Linked DNA regions of Homo sapiens. The protein of the gene in region 4 purifies or fractionates together with the protein of the main gene of each other region. This does not show direct contact. Each region holds a gene or a part of one and is shown on either strand. Other genes may lie near its edges.

The links.
Region 1: the proteins of CRYGD (region 4) and NEXN purify together in Homo sapiens (affinity purification with mass spectrometry; one large-scale study listed by BioGRID and IntAct). This does not show direct contact.
Region 2: the proteins of CRYGD (region 4) and PPP1R9A purify together in Homo sapiens (affinity purification with mass spectrometry; one large-scale study listed by BioGRID and IntAct). This does not show direct contact.
Region 3: the proteins of CRYGD (region 4) and LRRFIP2 purify together in Homo sapiens (affinity purification with mass spectrometry; one large-scale study listed by BioGRID and IntAct). This does not show direct contact.

The regions. Positions count from the first base shown.
Region 1 is NC_000001.11:77,926,624-77,932,323, reverse strand, and holds part of NEXN (nexilin), read right to left. Parts: intron 5,609-5,700; coding exon 5,432-5,608; intron 3,009-5,431; coding exon 2,820-3,008; intron 1-2,819. UniProt on the Homo sapiens protein: Involved in regulating cell migration through association with the actin cytoskeleton. Has an essential role in the maintenance of Z line and sarcomere integrity.
Region 2 is NC_000007.14:95,266,133-95,272,543, reverse strand, and holds part of PPP1R9A (neurabin-1), read right to left. Parts: intron 3,995-6,411; coding exon 3,837-3,994; intron 3,338-3,836; coding exon 3,037-3,337; intron 1-3,036. UniProt on the Homo sapiens protein: Binds to actin filaments (F-actin) and shows cross-linking activity. Binds along the sides of the F-actin. May be involved in neurite formation. Inhibits protein phosphatase 1-alpha activity.
Region 3 is NC_000003.12:37,163,120-37,169,530, reverse strand, and holds part of LRRFIP2 (leucine-rich repeat flightless-interacting protein 2), read left to right. Parts: intron 1-6,411. UniProt on the Homo sapiens protein: May function as activator of the canonical Wnt signaling pathway, in association with DVL3, upstream of CTNNB1/beta-catenin.
Region 4 is NC_000002.12:208,121,725-208,127,672, forward strand, and holds the start of CRYGD (gamma-crystallin D), read right to left. Parts: upstream 2,801-5,948; 5' UTR 2,750-2,800; coding exon 2,741-2,749; intron 2,631-2,740; coding exon 2,388-2,630; intron 222-2,387; coding exon 1-221. UniProt on the Homo sapiens protein: Crystallins are the dominant structural components of the vertebrate eye lens.

The DNA.
Region 1 (5,700 bases), on a different chromosome or scaffold from region 4:
AGAAACTGAGGCACTGAAAAGTAATTGTCTAAAGTCAACACAAATACTATGTGGCAAAGCTGGGATTCAAACTTCAAAATATTTCTAATAAGATTATAGGCCGGGCACAGTGGCTCATGCCTGTAATCCCAGCACTTTGGGAGGCCAAGGCAGGTGGATCATGAGGTCAGGAGTTCGAGACCAGCCTGACTAACATGGTGAAACCCCGTCTCTACTAAAAATACAAAAATTAGCCAGGTGTGGTGGTGGGCGCCTGTAATCCCAGCTACTGGGGAGGCTGAGGCAGGAGAATCACGTGAACCCAGGAGGTGGAAGTTGCAGTGAGCCGAGATTGCACCATTGTACTCCAGCCTGGGTGACAGCGAGACTCCATCTCAAAAAAAACAAAAGATTATAGGCCGGGCGCGGTATAACATAACCCTCTGGCCTGAACTGTGACTCTGTGGTTGAAATACACACAGGGGAATGAGAGAGGCAAGGGGTATTATTCATTTGCTCCAAGTTTTATCAAGGTAATCCAGGCTTTACCACAGAACTATTTCAACTCAGAAACAATGTTTAAGTGGTTTACAATTCAAAGATTGCCTGAAATTTTTAAATTTTACATATGCATGAACTAAGCTATGGTATGAAATTACAATACTTATTCCTGGATAAATTACAATACTTATTTGTGGATAAGAAAACAATATAAATGTAAGAGGAAGGTTTTCTCTCTTCTCTTTAGAAATGTCTTTAGGAAACTTGGTTTTGTTTTAATGCAGTTTTCTCGCCTGCATTTTTTCCGCTAGTGAATCATGGTAAAAAGGCAGTATTGGCCTACAAATCTGCCCCAAGGACTAGGTCTAGTAATCTTCACAGTTACTTCTCTTCTACCGCTTCTTTTTTTTTTTTTTTTTTTTTTTTTTTTTGAGACGGAGTCTCACTCTGTCCCCCAGGCTGGAGTGCAGTGGCGAGATCTTGGCTCACTGCAAGCTCCGCCTCCCAGGTTCATGCGATTCTCCTGCCTCAGCCTCTGAGTAGCTGGGACTACAGGTGCCCGCCAACACGCCCGGCTAATTTTTTTTTTTTTTTTTTTTTTTTTTTTTTTTTGTATTTTTAGTAGAGACGGGGTTTCAACATGTTAGCCAGGATGGTCTCGATCTCCTGACCTCGTGATCCGCCCGCCTCGGCCTCCCAAAGTGCTGGGATTACAGGCGTGAGCCACCGCGCCCGGCTTCTTCTACCGCTTCTAAACCTGCTTATTCTCCAAAAATTAAGTGCATTCACAACGTCTGTAGGACTTCTATGTAGAAACCATTTATGAATCAGGGATTACCTACTGCACGTAAGATTTCAATATCACTTGTTCCATCAACATTTATTGGAGGTCTGCTACGCTAAGCATTGTGCCACATGTTTGATGAACAGTCTTGGCCTCATGGAGTGGAAAAGACAGCCATAAGTGGTAACAATACAGGATTAGCGCTATGATAGAAGAGTACTAAATGCTGTAAGAATTCATGGAAGGTGTTTATTATCAGGAAAGGCTTTCCAGAGGAAATGGAAAGTTATGAATTGGAGTTAGCAGAGCATAGGGAAAGGAGTGAGGGACATCTTTCAGACAGTGTGAAGGCTGAGTCTCACTTTGAAGAAATACAAACAAATTCAGCATATTTGGAACAAAGAGCAGATTCAGGAAGAATCAAGAAATGAAACGAGAGCAATATACAAGAGCAAGACTATAAAGAAATTTGTTTTAGAAGTTTTTGGATTTTTGCTTAAGAAAAGTGGGGAAATATTAAGCAAAACAGTAACAAAACACAATCAAAATTTCTTTCTTTTTAAAGATCACTCCTGGCCTTACAGGAAAGAATAGGTTACAGGTAAGAAAGCAAGTTAATGAGGAGTTGGCCCCAGGCAAGTTGTAACAGTAACTTGGATTATAGTAGTGGCGGTGAAAATGGGGGGAAAACTGACAGATTTCATAGTGATTTAGGAGGTAGAATAAACGAGACTTAGTGACTGGTTGGACATCAGGCATGAATAAGAAGATGGAAGTGTTTCAGGCTTCCACGTTTCTGATTTGAGTATCTGTGTGGGCAATAAAGCCAAATAAACACTTGGACATATGTGTGTGATGCTCACCCATACAGAGGAAGAAAACCAGGTTACGATATCACCAAAGCTAATTACAGTGTTTCAAGAAGGAGATGCAGTGCTCTAGTCTCAAATTGCTTCAAAATTGTTTGTCAGATAACTGTACATTGTACAAACATAAAACTGGTATAGGAAGTACAGTCATAACCTTGTGACAGTTAAGTTAGGTATCAATTTCCAGGAGTGATGAGTGAGCATTTTGAAGAGAGAAATAATTCTGATTAAATGACTCAGGTCATTTAATATATAGTAGGTGGGATGAAAACTGAAAGAAGGAAAGGAAGGAAATAAAGGAATGAAGGAGGGAGAAAGGGAGTATGGGAAGGAGGTGGCGAAAGAATGGAGAGGAAGAAAGAAAAGTTGAGGGAGGAAACTCCCTACTTCTTCTTCTTCCTTGGATACTTAGTTCTGGAAAACATGCCTTCCCAGAGAAGGGAGATAATATTCCATCCTTTGTGCCAAGCATGGCAATTTAAAGCAGAATCTTCTGAACACTAAATTGAAGCAAATACCTTCAACCAACTGGTGTTATTCCATGGGAGACTTTAAAACATATTTGCCATTTCTACTCTTGGCACAGTTTCCAGAAATAATAGGGTATTCTCTAAAGTCTAATGATTCTATTAACATATTCTCAAAGGTGAATTCTAATAGCATTCTCCAGTTAGCTTCTGTCTTACCATATTTCTCCTTGCTTCAGCAAACGCCTTCTTTTCTTCCTCTATTCTCCTTCTGGCTTCTTCTTCTGCTTTCCTTTTTTCATCTTCTCTTCTTTGCCTTTCCATTTCTTCAAAACTGAGTTTGAGTTTACCAGGGCGGTACCCTTTAAAAATTTTTGCTGTGTCTTGGTTTTCCTCATCTTCATTTACCTAACCAAATAAACAATTCATTACTAAGAATTGAGGTTCATCAGAAAAAGGAATGAATTATTAATCAAAAGGCACAGAATTAGCCACTATCACACAGGAGTTTCAATGCCCTTAATATACTTGACCTAAATCCCCTTCCTTTTTAATGTCTTCTATGATAAAATATTCAAATTTGGAGAAATTCCATATAAAGATGTACTCAGGTTAAATAAAACTTCTCAAATAAGCCAAATTTCTATAGATAAAATTGAATATTAAAACATTTTTAGCCAGGTGTTGTGGCGGCTCACGCCTGTAATTCCAGAACTTTAGGAGGCAGGAGGATCACTTGAACCCAGGAGTTCAAGACCAGCCTGGGCAACATAGCAAGACTTCGTCTCTACTAAAAACCAAAAAACACATTATAGCCAGTGTGGTGGTGTGTGCCTGTAGTCCCAGCTACTCGAGAAGCTGAGGTGGGAGGATCCCTTGAGCCCAGTAGGTTGAGGCTGCAGTGAGGGGTTACTGTTGAGTATTAACTTTCCCAGAACAAATATAAAATGCGTATGTGTGTACTATAATTGGGGTTCAAGTATATCTACACAGAATCTCTTTGGTAGTAAAATAATGTTCTCATTTTGTAATTTTTGTATTTTTTTTTTTACTGTGAACTATGGTACCTTATACTAATCAGATAAAAGATTATTATCTAGAACTATTTTATGTAAAATTCCAGCTTTATGATTTTATCATTAAAGGTTTATTATTAAATTTACTATAATATCAATTGAAATGTATTATTTATTTAACAATACTATTTCTTTATTAAGTTGACCACCAGAAATATCTAAAATGTGCAGATATTATGCAGCTATACCCGAGTAATAACATTTTCAAATAAATGTCTAGAAAATTAAATTTTTATATATATAATTCTTAGAACATCATTCAAGAAAGCTGATCAAGAAAGTTCTGTAACTTTAAAATTACAAATATTCCATTTTTAGATCCTTTTTTTTTTTTTTTGAGACAGGGTCTCACTCTGTCACCCAGGCTGGAGTCCAGTGGCTCATTCATAGTTCGCCGTAGCCTTGATTTCCCGGGCTCAAGCAATCCTCTCGCCTCAGCACCCGGGGAGCTTGGACTACAGGTCTGTGCCACCACACCTGGCTAATTTTTGTATTTGTTTTTGTAGAGACATGGTTTCCACATGTTGCTCAGGCTGGTCTCAAACTCCTGGGCTCAAGGGATCTGCCTGCCTCAGCCTTCCAAAGTGCTGAGATTACAGGCATGGCCACCATGCCTGGCGCATTTTTAAATCTTAAAACGAGGTTTGGAATCAGTGTTTTCTTATTTCAGTTTTACTTTCTGTTGATAAATCTATTAATACCATAGTAATAATTAACATTTTCAAAGAACTTAGTATATGTAACAAACACCATTTTAAGTGCTTCCTAGATATTAACTTGTTTAACCATTTAAGAAATAGGCATTGAAAAAAAATCCAAGTCATTGTGGAAGTTAAAAAAAAAAAGAAGTAGGCGCTTTCATTTTTACCATTTTAAAAATGAAGAAACTAAGAGAGATTTAATTAATTAACACAGCGAGAGATTAAAACAGTTGTCCATGGTTACACAGTTAGTAAATGGCTGATATCTGAATCTAGACAATCTGGCCCCACAATCCATGCTCTTAACCACACTACACACACACACACACACACACACACACACAGACACACACACACAGAGGCATGCACACAAATATGCACACACATACACTTAATAGGACAAACTGCATATTCCACCGTAAACTGTTATTTTGATATGTTCAAACAGTTGAAAAACTGGACTGCTGAGGACAAGTTTACACTTATAATCAGTCCCGCACCCATGTCATTAAGTACTTTGCAGATTGAACTAACAGATGAAGGAAACCAGGTTCATTGAGTAATTATTTTGCATATTTATACATTAATAACAATGTATAAAAATAAAAATTTAAAGCATATTGGGTAAAATGCCCCAGAGTGAAAACTGGAAAACAGTATGGATTTTTTTTTTTGAGACAGTCTCATTCTGTTACCCAGGCTGGAGTGCAATGGCGTGATCTCAGCTCACTGCAACCTCCATCGCCTAAGTTCAAGTGATTCTCGTGCCTTAGCCTCCCAAGCAGCTGGGATTACAGGGATTTCACAGTGTTGGCCAGGCTGGTTTCAAACTCCTGACCTCAGGTGATCTACCCACCTTGGCCTCCCAAAGTGCTGGGATTACAGCATGAGCCACCGTGCCTAGCCTAGATGTATTTTATATATGAAATATGAATACAATTAGAAAATCAGCCCTTCTATATGTAAAATCTCTTTGAATTTGTAGTAGTAAACCTTATCTTAAGTCGGCTAACTTCATTAATATTAATTGTAAGGTTTAAATATGTAGATTTACCATTTGCCGCCTTGCTTCTTCAAAAGCACGCTTCTCTTCTTCTAAACGTTTTCTTGCTTCCTCTTCAGCTTGCTTCTTTCGGTTTTCTTGTCTTTGTCGCTCCAGTTCTTCAAAAGTTAGTTTCAATTTTCCGGGAGAAAGTGATTCTTTTTTTGCTTCACTTTCTATTTCATCATCCTAAGAAAACGTTATGAAAACCCACCTTTTAGTCATAAAGGAAAATGCTGCTAACTTAAACTGCCTTGATTTGTTTCTTAGAAAACAAACAA
Region 2 (6,411 bases), on a different chromosome or scaffold from region 4:
TAATGAAACACAAGAGTCAGAAATATGTCTGTGTCAAAAATCCACTTCAAGCCTCAAATATTTATTATGCATATTTGCATCATTACTCTTTGGGTAACTGAATTGTCACAGATGTGACACAATCATATAAAAAAATCCATAGACATAGACATGGCACAAACACCTTCTAAGGTGATTTTACTAATGGATTTTATTTTTAAAAGCAAGATTTAAATTTTCTTAATAGAAGCTGAAGAAAAGAAAGTGCCAAATTCTTCCAGATCAATCCTAAAGCAACTCTTAATGGCTAGGACTATGCAAAGTTAAAAGGAGACTGCCTAATTATTTCCTGAATGAGAGGTAGCTGGGAGATGTTACAATGAGCGCTGAGAAGACCAGCTGAGGCAATGTACACGAAAACACTCTGTAACCCATGAGTGTTGCAGTTATTTGGACATCATGCGACTAAAAGCCTGATTCTGCCTATCACAGAGCTTGGTGCTAGGCAACCTTACATCTTTATCTCACACATTTGCCAAAGTGCGTTCCCAGGAACACTGAAATGAATGCTTCCATAGGGCTGAAGATGTTAAGAATAAGGAATAATGTACTTTCCCATTTAAAATCGATTAAATCCATCTTTAATGCACACTAGAACTTCTAGTCTGCATAAAATCCAACATTAGATTGGTATGATTTCAGGAAAAAAGAAACATACATTTTGTTTATTTAGCTCTACGTAAGACTTCTGTTAGGCTTTTTAAAATCTCTCCAATACTACCTTTGTGACCAATTATACATCTGAGCCCCCAGATTGGGTGCCTCAACTTTAAGCTGTGGCAACCTGGTTTTCATTTTCAAATAATAAATGATCTCCTGATGGCCAAATCCTAAGGTCTTGTACTGGACTGCATCTCCTTAATCTCACTGTAATAAGATACTTGACTATCTCTTCCTTTATAATGGGGACTCCCAAATCTACCTGGCAGTCCTGACCTCTCTCTTGCGCTCATGACCTCCTCTGTTAAAAAAATGAGTTAATCCTATTTCCCCCATCATGTTGCTGATTTCCTATTTTCTGTTAATGACAAGACCATATGTTCTGAGGCGTGAAGCCCATGATAGTTTTGCCTCACTTTCTTACCTGTTACCTAGTCAAGGTATGTCTCAAGGGTCCTTGAATCATTCTTTCCTGTCACTGTCTACTGCTCCTCTTTAGAGGGCACCACCTCATAGGGTCTCCTAACTCAGCTTCTCCATACCTGGTGGTGTCTTTTCCTTTTTATTCCTCTGGTCAAACTTCTTGTGGTTTCCTAGTAATATGGCAAGTTATCTAAGATGTTTAACTTCTAAAGCTATATACTTAACCTACTGGCTCACTTTTGTGTGTAACTACTCCACCCTGCATAAGCAAACTGCTACAGCCAGGCTGGGATAGCCTTGTACCTTTAAATCATATGATATGTGCCTGTCTCTGTTAATGACATCACTTTACCCGCTATTCCCTCCTTACCTACCCTTTTTTTCCCTTAAGTGCTTTGATGGCTATTCTAATTGTACTTCCTTGGATAGGTTTTGTTTACCAACCTCAGCTGGACGCAATCTCTCTCTCTTCTGAGCGTTGATATAATTGTACTCTATCTATACTTGCAGAGGCCCAATGCTTTTAATAAGCAATAAATCCTGTAAAGCTTTAAAAAAGCCAGTTTCTATTTACTAGACATTAATTCAATGAATATTTTTGAACACATCTTCTGGGTCAAATAATGTGTTATTAACCACACAAAAAATTAGAATAATAATCTCTAGTAATTGTGAGTAGAAAATTGATAGTGTTCAATTTACTTTATTTAATCTTGACTGAACAAAGGCCCAGTGCTATGTAAGCCTCGGGACCAAAACTTTAGTATTAGGTTGTTTATATAACAGGAACGAGGAAAATATTTTCATGCCTTCTACTGGCATATAACCTGTTTTACAAATCTCTAGAAAAAAATCTTTTACTTCCTCTAATTTGATATTCCGTTAGATGCTTATCATTTAGCCAGTTATAATGGGACTTCTCCATCCTAATTTCCACTGATGTCCCTCAGATATGAAAAAAAATGATTTGTAAATGTGGTATTGACACAATTCAGAAAATCGCCAACTCCTGTTAGGGTAACCAGAGCCTTATCCTCAAGCCTGCAATCAAACATGGCTGTAATTAATCATCTTTGTGGTAACTTGATAGACCAAAAGTAAAGGTATAACACTTTTTAAAAATTCTAGATAAATGGCAACCAATGATGAAGCCATTTTCAGAGTTTATCCAGCAATTTTGAGTATAAGAAAATATACTTCTAGACCAGGCATCAGGAAGCTTTCTTTACCTTTCAGGGGCCACAGAGTAAAATATTTTAGGTTTGTGAGATACACAGTCTCTGTCACAACGACTCAACACTGCTACTGTAGCATGAAAATAGATAGTATGTAAGTAAAAAAGTGTGACTGTACTCCCATAAGACTTCATTTACAAAAGCAGGTGGAGACTACATTCGGTTGATTATCCCTCTTCTAGAAGATCTGCACTGGTTACGTGGAGAGGTATATTAGCAATTCATCCAAGAACATTATTAAGTATCAATTATATGCCTGTGTTACTTTGATCTTCGTCTTTTTTTCCTATATGACTACGTTAGTGTTTACTGAAACTCTGGGCTGCTATTCTACAAAATCGCTCTATATTTTTCTATATGACTATGTAGTGTTTTTTTCTTTATGACTGTGTTAGTGTTTGTTGAAACTCTGGGCTGCCCCACTCCCCTGAAGAACTCCCTTGAGTAGTAAACTTATAGAGAGCTGAAGAGATAAAAATACTGAACCAGATAGGAAAAGATAAAACTAAATTAAAGTAAAATACATGGAGGGGTTGTTTCTCTTATTCTATAATATAAAAAGAAATTAATATTAATTATTAGCTATGAGAAAACAAATGACTTATGATTATGAGAAAAAGTCATTTTTATACTGTACAAGCTGAGGTGTTATGAAGTCAGAAAAAGAAATTAACAATACCTTTTTCTCGTAATATTTTCTTGTTGGTGGTTTGGTGATGGCAAGGAGATTCTTCCACATCATGATCAGACTTTGAAGTAGAAAACAGTGAAGTGTCTCCCCACATAGAGGAGAGAGGCCCCATTTCTGGGTCCAGTGGTTCTTCTTGAAATTCAGCTATGTGGTCAGACGAGAAGGGCACATTGCTATCCACCGGGGTGAGGGGTGGAACACCAGAATCTGATTCTGGAGAAGACGTTCTCAAACCCTTAGGTGGAAGTAATTTGGTAATATGCATGTGGTTATAGAAACTGTTTGATGGCTGTTGGTATAAGAGATTATAAGGAAGGTTATGCCACTGAGTATCAGTTCTATGCAATACTTACTTTGAAATAAGACCAACCTTTTATTAGTGAATCCCCATGAAAACCAGTTTTTGTTGATTTACAGATGAGAATGCATGGTTCATACCAATTCACCATATTAACATCGTCACTAATACATATACCTAAGACCTACAGAAACAATTACTTGTACGTTCATTATTTCCCACTAAGTAAAACCAATAGCTGAATATCAAAAGCACCATCATGAAATATGACAATACAGATAATGCTCTTGGTTAGTTCACTGAATGAATAGACAAAATATTTTGAATTACAACAATATAAAGAATTCAGGAGACAAAGACGTGAACTATTCTAGCTGCTTACCAACTAGGACATAGACTCTGTTTGCAGAAAAATCATAATCTTCAATAAGCTGTAGGAACAATGATATACTCCAACAGTACAAATCAGGAAACGGTCAAGGGTGCTCACCTTTCTCTCTAGACTGTCCTCCCCATCTGTGGAACTAACACTATCATACAGTCTTGTCCTAGAGGGTCTCTGGCGTCTGTTCTTCACAGAGAGCTGGGCTCGAGTTTTCAGTGCTTTTGAATCCAGGCGCTCTGTCTCTGGGACTGCTTCATTCAAGTCTAAGAATATTGAAAGATAATCAGTGAGAGAAACCTTTGGAGAGAACTGATGAAGAGACCACAGACACTGATAAAATCTCAAGGTAACCAGTAACATCAGGTAAGGATCAGGTGACCACCATGACAGCCTGTAACCAAGAAATAACCAAGAAATCAGTGGGGCTTAGGAGAAATATACAAAGTCAAAGGAAGAAACCAACACTAAAGATGATGAAGGCGCTATAAAAATCCAACATCCGAAAAGCATACAACCTTCCTGCAATATAATTATAAAAATCACTAATTTGTATTTACTATTTATGTGTATGCATGTTGGGAAGTTAGATGACCAAAGATATAGAGGAGGGTATATCAAAAGTTGACAGATCTTAGAAACCAAGGACAAAAAACCTACAAAGTCAGGTTTCCAGTTCAACTACAGGCAACAGAAGGTAACTATCATAAATTTACTGTAGCAAAATTTACTAGCAGTCTTCAGGTACTATATCATTTTCATTTTAATATATAATTTTCAACCCAAAACAGTTTCTGAAAATCTACCTTGTTCCTTTTTGAAACCTGTAGAAAGACCAGTGAGGAATTTACCTAATCAGCAAATTGACGATAGCTGGGGAAAAGAAACAAGGTCTGGCTACACAAATGAAGAAACAAACAGTTAAAAAATCGTAAGTACTTAGTTTACTAGTATTGTGGATGAGGTAGGATAAACATTTCCTTTTCTTTCATTAACATCTAACTTTGTATTACAAGTTATTTGTATGTGCCTCTGACTCATCTCTGTGAATACCTTCTCTCCCCACCAGAAACGACACTGATTTTCGAAGGGTAAATACTTAAGTCTTTAAATAAAAAGGCTAAAAGAAAAAGAGAGTAAAGTGGGACACAAAGAAAATGAACTATTAACAGCAAAGGCCACAGAGAGAATTCAATTAGTCCTCTTTAGCCTGGCTCTTACCACCTTTAATTTTGCTACCTAGATTTTAAGTTAGGACCCCGAAGTTAACATTCTAAAGGAAAGGTACCCATTAACATACCTGGATATTGGTTAAGGAAAAGTACTCTCTGGTGGAACTTATTTGAAATGCTACTACTCCTTTCATTTGCATATGTAATCACTCCTTAGAAATAAAGGAGTTTGATCATTAATCCTATTTTATCTCTTCAGAGTGGCAGTCATTAGCTGAAGTCATGTTCAAGGAGTTAATAATTGAGTGCAAATAACTGAGTTGCAGAAAATTATGTACTTGTATTAACAGAATAAACAATTTCTTATAATATTATTAGCTCAGGCAATTCCTTTTTACAGCATTATTCTAGATGTGCTCTAAATATGCTATACTACAAAACCAAAGCAAGGAAGCACCTCAGTTTGTGCCTCTTGTCTATGAAACCTAGCACTTAGTATATGGCTCTAACAAACAAAATTAACTACATTTTTGCCCAGGAGATACATCCATTGAATGACAATATTTAGAGAAGGTTTTGACTTTTCATTTCCTATATCTGAATGAAGAATGAATACTCAGAAAATTCAGACCATTCAGGTACTTATAAAGAACAGCTAAATATTTTCTAATTAGCAGTCTCTTTACTTTTTACATGTCAGGGGAGAAAAAATAATTCCTTGATCACTTTAATTTCCTCCTTCCGATAAAATCTATATTTGTAGCTGCCCATTAAGAGTTCATTAGTTGTGATAACTGGGAGAGAGTCAATCTTATAAGCTCTTGCTTAAATATAAAATGTGGAACACCACGTAGATGAAAGCTGTAATATAATTAGAAACACTGTATGTAGTACTTGCACGTTTTATGCCTTATCTAGCTCATATTTGGATTGTATGCTCTATAATACAAATCATGCCACATACTCTATCTCATTTGTTCCTTACAACAGCCCCATGAGGTACCAATCAAGTATTTTTTTTCTCTCCTGAAGCTCAGAGAACTTGAGTAGCATGCCCTCATTTACATAACTAATTAATGCGCTACCATGATTACTCTAGTGTCTTGATTTCCAGGCTACTAGGCTATCCACTATGATTTAGCTAGTGTTGATAAACCTCCCATTGCAAGATTTTAATGCCATTAGAGTTTGGTGTTTTGGGTTATAAAATCATATATGACGTGACTAGTCTAGGAAACTCATTTCTCCAATAGGCTCCATCTAAAATATTATAATTAATCTTCCCTATATGTTAGATAACATGATAAAAAAAAAGGATGACATGTTGAAAAGTATAGAATAAATTACTTCCTGGATGATTTTTTATTTTGGTCTGGTTGGTTTAATAACAGCTTTGGCTACTAAGTGACAAAAAGACCCAAGGAAGAATCTCACTCCACTTTTGTAAACATGGTTCCTTTTGCAGTAGAATGCTGGCCCTGAGGATCTGGTATGGAACCCAATATCCAGGA
Region 3 (6,411 bases), on a different chromosome or scaffold from region 4:
AACAAACTGAATATATAGCATTGCTTTTTTTAAAAAGTGAGTATCCCAGTTAAGTGACCTAAGGATTATAGGACTAAATGTAGAAAAAAATTCAGCTTTAGATTAGATGTTTTTTCCCTTGTCACAGATAATGCTGTATCTAGGTGAACAGTCAAGGAAATGAGAGGGCATTGTTCTTGTCTTGCCAGATTCATCCTTTGCAATCAAATAAAGTTTGTTTTGTTTTTAAAATTGTGGTACAATATAGATAACATAAAATTTACTCTGTTGACCTTTTTTAAAAATATTTTTATTATGGTAAAATACAGTCATTTGTTGCTTAATGACAGGAATATGTTCTGGGAAATGCATCATTAGGTAATTTTGTCAAGCAAACATCATAGAGTATACTTACACTAACCTGGACAGTATAGCCTACTACACACCTAGACTATATGGTATAGTCTGTGGTTCCTGGGCCATAAACTTGTGCAGCATGTCACTGTACTGAATACTATAACTGTAGACAATTATAACACAGTGGTAAATTTTCGTGTATCTAAACATAGAAAAGATACAGTTAAAATATGATATAAAAGATTAGAAAATAGGCCAGGCATGGTGGTGTGCACCTGTAATTCCAGGTACTCAGGCTGAGGTAGGAGGATCACTTGAGATCAGGAGTTCTAGGCTGTAGTGTGCTATGAGCACATCTATGAATAGGCACTGCGTTCCAGCCTGGGCAACATAGTGAGGCCCCATCTCTTAAAAGGGCACACGTGTATAGGACAGCTCCATTATAATCTTATGGGACCACTGTAATATGTGTAATCCATTGTTGACTGGAACATCCTTATGCAGCACATGACTGTGTACATAACTTAAAATTTATCATTTAAACCATTTTTAAGTGTACAATTCGGTGGTATAAAGTACATTTACATTATTGTGTAACTATCACCTCTATCCATCTCCCTAACTTTTTCATCATCCTAAACAAGCTCTGCCCATTAAACAATATCACCTCATGCCCATAGCCCTTGGTAACCATTGTTCTACTTTTTGACTCTATGAATTTGTGTACTCCAGGTACCTCGTATAAATGGAATTATGTAATATTTGTCTTTGTGTCTGGCTCATTTCTCTTAGCATGATGTCTTCAAGATTCATCCATGTCATAGCATGTATCAGAATTTCATTTGTTTTAAGGCTGAAAAATATTCCTTCGTATGTTTATACCATATTGTTTAATCATCTTTTGATAGATGGGTTGTTTCCATCTTTCTGCTTTTGGGAATAGTGCCACCATGAATATGAGTATGCAAATGTCTGTTTGAGTGCCACATTCAATTCTTTTGTGTATGTACCCAGAAGTGGAATTGCTAGTAATTTGATAATTACCAAATTTCATTTGGTAATTCTATGCTTAATATTTTGAGAAACCACCATACTATTTTCCACAGTGGCTATACCATTTTACATTACCACCAGCAATGCACAAGGGTTCCAGTTTCTCCACATCCTTGCCAACATTTACTATTTTCTGTTTTCTTATTGATTGATTTTTATTTATGTTGAGCCAGGGTCTCACTCTGTCACCAAGACTGGAATGCAATGGCCCGACCACAGCTCACTGTAGCCTTGACCTCCCGGGCTTAAGTGTTCCTTCCCACCTCAGTCTCTCGAGTAGCTGGGAGTACAGGTGTGCACTGCCATGCCTGGCTAATTTTTGTATATTTTGTAGAGATGAGGTCTCTCCATTAGCCCAGGAGGGTCTCAAACTCCTGAGCTCCGCCAGCCTTGGCCTCCCAAAGTGCTGGGATTACAGGTGTGAGCCATTGTTCCTGGTCCCGTTTTCTTTTTTTTTTCTTTTTTCTTTCTTTCTTTTTTTTTTTTTTGAGACAGAGTGTTGCTCTGTTGCCTAGGCTAGAGTGCAGTGGCGCGATCTCGGCTCACTGCAACCTCTCCCTCCTGGGTTTAAGCGATTCTCCTGCCTTAGCCTCCCAAGTAGCTGGGACTATGGGCACCCGCCACCACGCCCGGCTAATTTTCGTATTTTCAGTAGAGACGGGGTTTCGCCCTATTGGCCAGGCTGGTCTCGAACTCCTGACTTTGTGATCTGCCCGCCTCGGCCTCCCAAAGTGCTGGGATTACAGGCGTGAGCCACTGCACCCGGCCTGCTTGTGCCTGGCCCTGTTTTCTAACACAAAAAAATCGATTATTTTTAAAATAAAATCTCTAATAGGGTGGTATTTCACTGTGGTTTTGATTTGTATTTCCCTGGTGATGGGTGACATTGTGCATCTTTTCTTTTTCTCTTCTTTTCTTTCTTTCTTTCTTTTTTTTTTTTTTTTGGAGACAAGATTTTGCTTTGGCACCCAGGCTGGAGTGTAGTGTCACAATCATGCCTCACTGCAGCCTCGACCTCCTGGGCTAAAATGATCCTCCCACCTCAGCCTCTCCAGTAGCTGGGACCACAGGCATGTACCACCATGTTCAGCTGATTTTCTTTTCTCCTTCTGTTTCTTTTTTTTTTGAGACAGAGTTTCGCCCTTGTTGCCCAGGCTGGAGTGCAATGGCGCTATCTCTGCTCACTGCAACCTCTGCCTCCCAGGTTGAAGCGATTCTGCCTCAGCCTCCCAAGTAGCTGGGATTACAGGCATGCGCCACCATGTCCAGCTAATTTTGTATTTACAGTAGAGATGGGGTTTCTCCATGTTGACCAGGCTGGTCTCGAACTCCCAACCTCAGGTGATCCGCCCACCTCAGCCTCCCAAAGTGCTGGGATTACAGGCATGAGCCACTGTGCCTTGCCTCTTTTTTTTTATATTTTGTAGAGACATGTTGCCCAGGCTGGTCTCCAACTCTGGGTTCAAGCAACGTCCAGGCTGGTCTCCAACTCCTGGGCTCGAGCAATACTCCTGCCTCAGCCTCCCAAAGTGCTGGGATTACGTATGTTGAGCCATCATGCCCGGCTGAGCATCTTTTCATGTGACCATTTTTGTATCTTCTTTGAAGAAATGTCTACTTATGTCTTTTATCTTTTTAATTGGGTTTTTGTTGTTGCTTAGTTGTAGGAGTTCTTTATATCAATCCTTTATCAGCTATGTGATTTGCAAATTTTTTTTTATTCCGTGGTTTGCCTTTTTACTTTTTGATAGTGTGCTTTGATGTACACAGTTTTGTTTTTATTTTATTTTATTTTATTTTATGTTATGTTATTTTAAGATGGAGTCTTGCTCTGCCCAGGCTGGAGTGCAGTGGCCCAATCTCGGCTCACTGCAACCTCCGCCTCCTGGGTTCAAGCTATTCTCCTGCCTCAGTCTCCTGAATAGCTGGGATTACAGGCATGCGCCACCATGCCTGGCTAATTTTTGTATTTTTAGTAGAGACGGGTTTTCACCATGTTGGCCAGGCTGGCCTTGAACTCCTGACCTCGTGATCTGCCTGCCTTCCAAAGTGCTGGGATTCCAGATGTGAGCCACCGCGCCCTGCCCAGAGTTTTTAATTTTGATGAAATCCAACTTACCTTTTCTTTTGTTGCTTCTGCTTTTGGTATTATGTCCAAGAAATCATTGCCAAATTCAATATCATGAAGTTTTTCCCATATATTTTCTCCTACGAGTTTTATGGTTTTAGCTCATTTGTTTAGGTCTTTGATCCATTTTGAGTTTTTTCTTCTTTCTTTCTTTCTCTTTCTTTCTTTCTTTCTTTCTTTCTTTCTTTCTTTCTTTCTTTCTTTCTTTCTTTCTTTCTCTTTCTTTCTCTTTTCTTTTCTTTTCTTTTCTTTTTTTTGTGACAGAGTTTCTCTCTTGTTGCCCGGGCTAGAGTGCAATGGTGTAATCTCGGGCTCACTGCAACCTCCACCACCTCCTGGGTTCGAGCAATTCTCTGGCCTCAGCCTCCCGAGTAGATGGGATTACAGGCACCTGCCACCACGCCCAGCTAATTTTTGTATTTTTAGTAGAGACAGGGTTTCACTGGTCAGGCTGGTCTTGAACTCTTGACCTCAGGTGATCCGCCTGCCTTGGCCTCCCAAAGTGCTGGGATTATAGGCGTTAGCCACCATGCCTGACCCCTGAGTTAACTTTTCTATATGGTATAAGGCAGTGGTCCCCAACCTTTTTGGCACCAGGATTCAGTTTTGTGGAAAGCAATTTTTCCATGGACGGGGGTGGGGTGGGTGGGGGGGTTGGTTTCGGGATGAAACCATTTCATCTCAGATGATCATCAGGCATTAGATTCTCATAAGGAACGCACAACCTAGATCCCTCACATGCACAGTTCATTTTTTTTTGTTTTTTTGTTTTTTTTTTTGAGACAGAGTCTCGCTCTGTCACCCAGGCTGGAGTGCAGTGGTGCAGTCTCGGCTCACTGGAAGCTCCGCCTCCCAGGTTCACGCCATTCTCCTGCCTCAGCCTCCCAAGTAGCTGGAACTATAGGCGCTCACCACCACGCCTGGCTAATTTTTTGTATTTTTAGTAGAGATGGGGTTTCACCATGTTAGCCAGGATGGTCTCGATCTCCCGACCTCGTGATCTGCCAGCCTCGGCCTCCCAAAGTGCTGGGATTACAGGCGTCAGCCACCGCACCAGGCTGGAAGACAGTCTTATATAATGTAACATAGTTATGGGAGTAGCATCCTGTATAACCTTTGCCATATTCTGTTGGTTAGAAGTAAGTCACAGGACCCACCTACATTCATGGGGGAAGTAATTACACAAAGGTGTGAACAGTAGGAAGGGCGATTAGGGTGGGGAACCACCTTAGAATTTGTCTACCATAACTGATTACAAAATAGCATGTTTTAGGAACTTTTTTTTTTTTTTTTGAGACGGAGTCTTTTTCTGTCATCCAGGCTGGAGTGCAGTGGCATGATCTTGGCTCACTGCAACCTCTGCCTCCCACATTCAAGCAATTTTCCCGCCTCTGCCTCCCATGTGGCTGAGATTACAGGCGCCTGCCACCATGCATGCCTGGCTAATTTTTGTATTTTTAGTAGAGATGGGTTTCACCATGTTGGTCAGGCTGATCTCGAACTCCTGACCTCAGGTGATCTGCCCACTTCAGCCTTCCAAAGTGCTGGAATTACAGGCATGAGCCGCCATGCCCTGCCATATTAACCAATTTTTGTTTAAAAAATAATGTTATTAAAATAGGAGTATCTTCGGATGGTGGGACTTACTGGTGGTTTTATTGTTATTTTGTATTTCTTCACTATTTCATCCCACTTTCCCTCCCTGCAACATTCCAATTTTGAAATTTTAAATCAATAGTTGGTGTTTTCATTATAATGAAATAAATATTGTTTACTGATCAGCCATGTGGTATATCATACTTGTTTCCTTTCTTGTTTAACTTTGTTTTTTCAGGGAGTTAAAATTTGCCTTTTACATTTACATAATTTTCTGTTTACCTGTTGCTTTCCCCCTAAATGCGCCAACAGATTTTTCAAGAGTCTTCATCTATCTATGTATCTATCCATCCATCCATTCTAGCTTATAACATCAATTTATAAGCTATAAAACGAATTTATTTTGCATAAAATTAGTTGTGAACTATAGAGAAATATAAAACAAAAATACAGTTTTAGGAAGAAGAATACATGAACACCTGTGGTCTCACTACCTAGGTCAAGAAATTACATGTTACATTTATCCTAGAAGTTTCCTCAAGATATCCTTTAATGGCACCCCCTCCCTTCCAGGAAATCACAAGCCTATTTTAACATATTAGTCATTCTCTTGGGACCATTCTCTGCTCAAGCCTGCAATATCCTCCATGTCCATACATGTATTTTTGGCCAAAATTTTTAATTTTGAAAAACCAAAAAGCTCTACTACCTCTCTAAGTCTGTTAGTCAGGATAGGCTGAACTACTTTAATGAATAATTACCAAATCAGTGGTTTTTAACACAAAATTTATTTCTCACTCACATCTTTGCTGTGAGTTGAAAAGCAGTGACAGAGTGGTGGTCTGTTCCACAGAGTCATTGAGGGACTCAGGCTGCTTTCAGCTAGTGATTCTGCCACCCACTGGGGCCTCAGAGACTTTGAATTTCCTGCATCTGGCTGGCAGATGCGAGGACAAAGAGAGGGACTGTGGTAGATTGCATGGAAAGTTTGATGGGCCAGGCCAGGATGTGGTATACATCAGTTTTGTCCGCATTCCACTGGCTAGAACTGAGTCAAATGGCTACACTTAACTGCAAGGAAGGAAAGGGAAAACGCCTTGGTCAACAATGAGCCAATCTCTGCCATGGTATGTATCCCTAAGAAATATATCATTTTGTTTTGGAAAACTGAATAGCAAGCATCAACTGAGGCTGTGAAAGGAAAGGTACATACTGCTGCTATTAGATGAAAGCTCTCAGAAGATAAGCTGAAAAGAGTCTTCCTTGATCTTTTTTGGATAAGTCATTGGGAAAGTTTG
Region 4 (5,948 bases):
CCCCAGTCCTGGTAGCGCCTATAGTCCCCTGGCATCAGCAGGTACTGCCGTCCTCGGTAGTTGGACAGCTCGTAGAGGACCCAGGAGCCCTCCAGCACGTTGAGGGAGTGGATTTCATTGAAGCGGAAGCGGTCCTGAAGACAGGAGCAGTCCTCAGTGAACTCTATCATCTGGCCTCTGTAGTCCTCTCTCTCATAGAGTCTGATCCTGTGAGAGCCAGACTGGCGGACCCAGAAATAAAAAGAGAAGAAAAGCAAGTGTGAAATGATTCCAATGCATTGTTAGGCAGTCCAGCTTGGTGAGGACCCGCTCAAGCCATTTTGAAATACATGGTAAAATTTAATTAATTCTGAATATTTATAAACTCCTCATTACCGAGCACAGAGATTCAGTACCTTTTCAAGATTATGAAGTGTGGTGAAGAAATTGAGAAGGAAATCTCACTCTTTAATATATTCAGCTATTTCTTAGGATGAGCTGCCTCCTAGGCTCAGTATCCTGTACCACATGCAAATCCAAACCTGTAACAGCTTATTACTATTTTATACCATTTTGAAGAAATGTTTTAATATTAAAATAAACATTAAATTATAAAGAAATATATTTAAATAATGTATAATTTTAATATACATATGATATCTAATACATATTTAATTATATACTATATTTAAAATATATTATAAAATGTATAAAATTATATTTTATTTAAAGTTAATCATATTTTATTTTAATAATTATATTCAAATTATATTTTATAAGTATAAATTAAAATTATATTTATTTTACAAATTATATTTTATTTTAAAATAACTTTACTAAAATATAAATAAAATATATTTAAAATACAGAAATATAAGGGGTGGGGCAGTGGCTCATGCCTGTAGTCCCAGCACCCTGGGAAGCCGAGGCAGGTGGATCACTTGAGGTCAGGAGTTCAAGACCAGCCTGACGAATATGGCGAAACCTTGTCTATACTAAAAATACAAAAATTAGCCAGGTGTGGTGGCGGGTGCCTGTAATCCCAGCTACTTGGGAAGAAAATTGCTAGGGCCCAGGAAGCAGAGGTTGCAGTGTGCCGAGATCATGCCACTGCACTCCAGCGTGGGGAACAGAGCAAGACTTCGTCAAAAAAAATAATAATAATAAATAATAAAATAAAATAAAATAAAAATAAAAATACAAAAATTAGCTGGGTGTGGTGGCGTGCTCCTGTAACTCCAGCTACTCAGGAGACTGAGAGACGAGAATCATTTGAATCCAGGAGGCGGAGGTTGCAGTGAGCCGAGATTGCACCACTGCACTCCAGCCTGGGCGTCAGAGTGAGACTCTGTTTCAAAAAACAAAAACAAAACAACAACAACAAAAATATATATATACACACATATAATGTAAATGAAATATATTAAAAATATATTAAAATATATTTAAAATATGTTAAATATATTTAAAATATAATATAATTTATGTAGTTATATAAATATATTAAATACATATTTATTAAATAAATATATTATTAAATACATTATATTCATTAAATATATTTAATGTAAATATATTTAAAATATAAAAATATGTATTTTAAATATAAGTATTTAAAATATATTAAATATATCATTTAATATATTGAATTAAATGATAATGCATCATTTAAATCAATGACATAAATAAAATATGTTAAATATATAAGCCTTCTATTCAAAATATAAGTGTTTTAAATATATTAAAATATAAATATTTAAAATATATTAAAATATAAAATGTTAAATATCTTCATATATTAAAGAACAATTAATTCTAAGTCAATAACTTGTGAATGCAATGAAGAAAAATGGAGGAAGAAACATCAGTAAGTCCAAGGACGAATTTTGCATAAACTTTAGTGTTCTAACACACATATGGGATAAAAGGGACACATGTGTAAAATATGTGTGTTGCTCTCCTTTGAAGGAAAGTCTTACTTATATAGGTTGGGAAAACCCAAAATATGCAAGAGAGGAGCAAAAACGGGAAAAAGTCTCAAAAGAAATTACCCTGTTTGCTCAGTAACTGCTGTACGCTCTAGCATTTATTCTTCTATTGGGTATTAGTGGTTTTTCTACAACTCCATTCTAAATGATTCCAGAATAGGACTTAAGTCTTATACAACCCCTAGGGCAGGAGACACATTCCTACTCAATACATATTTGTGGATTAATTGTGATTAACTGGTGTCTGGGTAATACTTTGCTTATGTGGGGAGCAAACTCTATTGACTTAATCCACTATAGTTCATCTTTTGTCCACTCTCAGTTATTGTGACTGATCACTACTTCTAATGTTTAACTTTTGCTTGAAACCATCCAGTGAGTGTCCTGAGGGCCTGGGTCCTGACTTGAGGATGTACTCACGTGGGGGATGAGGCGGCAGGAGCGGACCGAGTCGCTGAGGCCCATCCACTGCTGGTGGTCGGCATAGTCGCCGCGGCGCAGGAAGTACTGGAGGCCCGAGTAGTTGGGCTGCTCATAGAGCATCCAGCAGCCGCTGTCCACGCGCGCCGAGTTGCAGCGGCTCAAGTAGGGCTGCAGGTTGGGGTGGTCGCTGCTGCATTCATAGTGGCGGCCCTGGAAGCCCCGGTCCTCGTAGAGGGTGATCTGCAAGGCAAGGCGGGACAAGGCGAGGTCTCACAGGCCTGCTCCTGCCCCAGTCTCTGGCCCCCGCGATGGAGGAAGCTCCGGGGTCCCGGGGCGCAGGCTGGGCTCACCTTCCCCATGGCTGGCTGGGCGCACGGCGGTGCTGAGCTGGTGGGGCGGCGGCGCTGAGCGGGTGGGGCTGCGGCGCGGCGGGCTATATAGCAGGAGGGCTGCTGCGTTGGCAAGAACCGCACAAAAGGGGCCCCCGGAGGGGAGCAAGGGCATTTTCGTGTTCTCTTTTTTTCTCTTTGCTGTGCTAGACCACGGGGCTTGTTGTGGGTTTTGGTCGCATTCTCTCTGGAGTATTCGGATTGCTATCACTGGCTGATGCTATTGAGAATGTTTGTAAAACGGCAATTTGGGACATTGTCTATTTATAATGGAAGTGGAGCTTCAGCTATTTCACATATAGTTCACGCTTTTATTCGTATAGATTGGGGAAAAACAAAAAAAATTTAAGTCGGGGAGCAAAAAAAGCAACGACTCTTAATAAGGCAAATATAAATTAATCTGTCAGAACTACAGTATTACTTACGTGCCACAATATTGAATACTGATTGTTAATAGGAAGGAAATGGGCTTAACTGAATGTTGAAAATTTCAAGTTAGTCCTTTAAGAGAACGTCATCATGAAAGGGTGTAAGAAATTGGAACATTTTATTAAGAGAGTTCACAGAATTTCGAACTTTTATTATGGTAAAACACACAGCAAACGTGAATCTTCAATATTGGGTCTGATTTTGTTGCAATTATGCCTGGAAGTAGCTGAGAATTAGATGTTTTTCTCTTAGCTAAAGGTGGTGCCGTGATTCAAAAGAGAGAATAGTTCTAAGATGCTTAATCTCAGAAAGAACTAAAAAGGGAAATATCTAAGTTTGAGGAAATTAGAAAAAGTAATATGTTTGAAACACAAAAACATGATCTCTTAGCTTGTTATAAAATAAAACCAAATTCCTAAGAAACTTATTTCTGGTAGGATCTAGAATACACCTTTGCCCTCTGAACGAGCGAGAGTACACAAGGCCTTTGACTCAGACGAAATTAATTGCATGAACACAAAGGGGAGCTATGGCTGGAATGATGCAGGGAGAGGAAGGAATAAAAATCTAGAAGTTGGACTCGAGGAAGACTTCAGAAAGTACTTATTGGCCTGGAAGAGAGCAGTTTGATGGACTGGGAAGAGTACTGGAGTGGAATATGACCTATGTGTCCAGCTTCTTTCATGTTCAAAGAATTGCTTACAGCCCTGTGTCAACCCATGGAAGTACTTTGTCTTGTCTTTGAGTCATAAATCTTTGTAAGTGGTATTTATGAATTAAACACCAACTATGTGCAATACAAATTATTTTAATTCTTATTTTCTGGCTGCTTTTTTTTTTTTGTATTCTTTCTATATAGAGCTCTACGGTGGTAGGGAAATACCTTTTTCTTTTGTTTTGTTTTGATTGTTTTCTTCATCCCCATTGCTACATATAGCAGGCGTATGGTAGGTGCTCAAAAATTGGTAAGGATCCTAACTCAAGGAAGTTAAGAGTCTCTAGTGGCTAATAATTGGAGGCTATTGAAATGGAAAATAAACTTGTGGCTGGGTGTGGTGGCTCACACCTGTAATCCCAGCACTTTCGGAGGCCAAGGTGGGAGGGTCACTTGAGCCCAGGAGTTCGAGACCAGCCCTGGCAACATAGTGAGACCCCTTCTCTACAAAAAAGTGAAAAAATTAGTCAGGCATGGTGGTGCGCGCCTGTAGCCCCAGCTACTTAGGAGGCTGAGATGGGAGGATCGCTTGAGCCTGTGAGGTCGAGGCTGCAGTGAGCTGGGTTTGTGCCACTGCACTCCATCCTGGACAACAGAGTGTGACCATGTCTCAAAAAATAAATAAATAAAATAAAATAAACTTGCACTATGAGCCGGTAGTCTCACTTCTAGGTCGCTATCTTTTTAAAATTATGGCATGTCAGGATTAGCGTATATGTACAATGTTATTCTTTGCAGCATTGTTGGTAAAAGCAACATTGGAAAAGCCCAGTCACTTAAGTGGACAAATGGTGAAATGGTCTAAGGGACCTCCAAACAATGGGATGCAATTCAACCATCAAACAGAATAAGATACTGACCTAGATATATGTCCATATTATAATACATTTTAAAAGCAAGTTGCAGACTAATATGTATAGCATGATTCCATTTTTGTAAAGAAAAGAAGCATGTGTTTTATAAGAGAGCTATATAAACAAGGAGAAAATCCCAGAAGGGTGCCCACCAACTATAAACAAGAGTTAGCAATGAGGGGCGTCAGAAGGACTCCCCTCAACTTCTTTATAGAATTTGTACAGTAGTAAGATTATGGGAGGCCTTTTACTTTGAAGGGAAATTTTTAAGTTAAAATAAATAAATTCTCTGCTGATGAAAAGACTCGTAATTGCTTTCTTTTTTTTTTTTTATTTTTACTTTTTAGGGCTTTGCTTATGAGCAAGCAGATTTTAGTTTAATAAAAGGCTCCAGAAATTATGGCTTCTTTAAAGCACCTTTAAATTTGAGCCCATTTTGTAATTACAGGACTTACGTATTTGTTTATTTAAACTTTTATTTTAGATTTAGGGGCACGTATCCAGGTTTGTAATACAGGTAAATTGCATGTTGTGAAGGTTTGGTGTACAGATTATTTTATCACCCAGGTGATAAGTATAGTACCTGACAGGTAGTTTTTTGATCCTCTCCAACCGCCCACCCTGCAACCTCAAGCAGGCCCCAGTGTCTCTTGTTTTCTTCTTGTCCACATGTACTCAAAGTTTAGCTCCCACTTAGAAGCGAGAACATGAGGTATTTTGTTTTCTGTTCCTGTGTTAGTTTGCTTAGGATAATGGCCTCCAGCTCCATCTATGTTGCTGCAAAGGACAGGGTCTCATTCTTTTTTATGGCTGCATAGTATTCCATTGTATATATGTACCACTTTGTAAAATCCAGCCTACCATTGATGGGCATTTAGGTTGATTCCATGTCTTTGCTGTCATGAATAGTGCTGTGATAAACATATGCATACATGCGTCCTTATGCCAGAACGATGTTTTTTGTAGTTATTTTTTATGTTTGGGGTACACTATACCATGAAAATCTATTTAAAAGATTGATGTGTATCTCTTAATATTAATTTATTTGCAATAGCTGGTCACCATGAAACTGATGTGCAGTTTCTATAATTGACACAGCATTTGGGCCAGGGGTAGTACCGACCAAGAGCTACACTTCTGGACAGGAGTCATTTTCAAAAGAAGATGAATA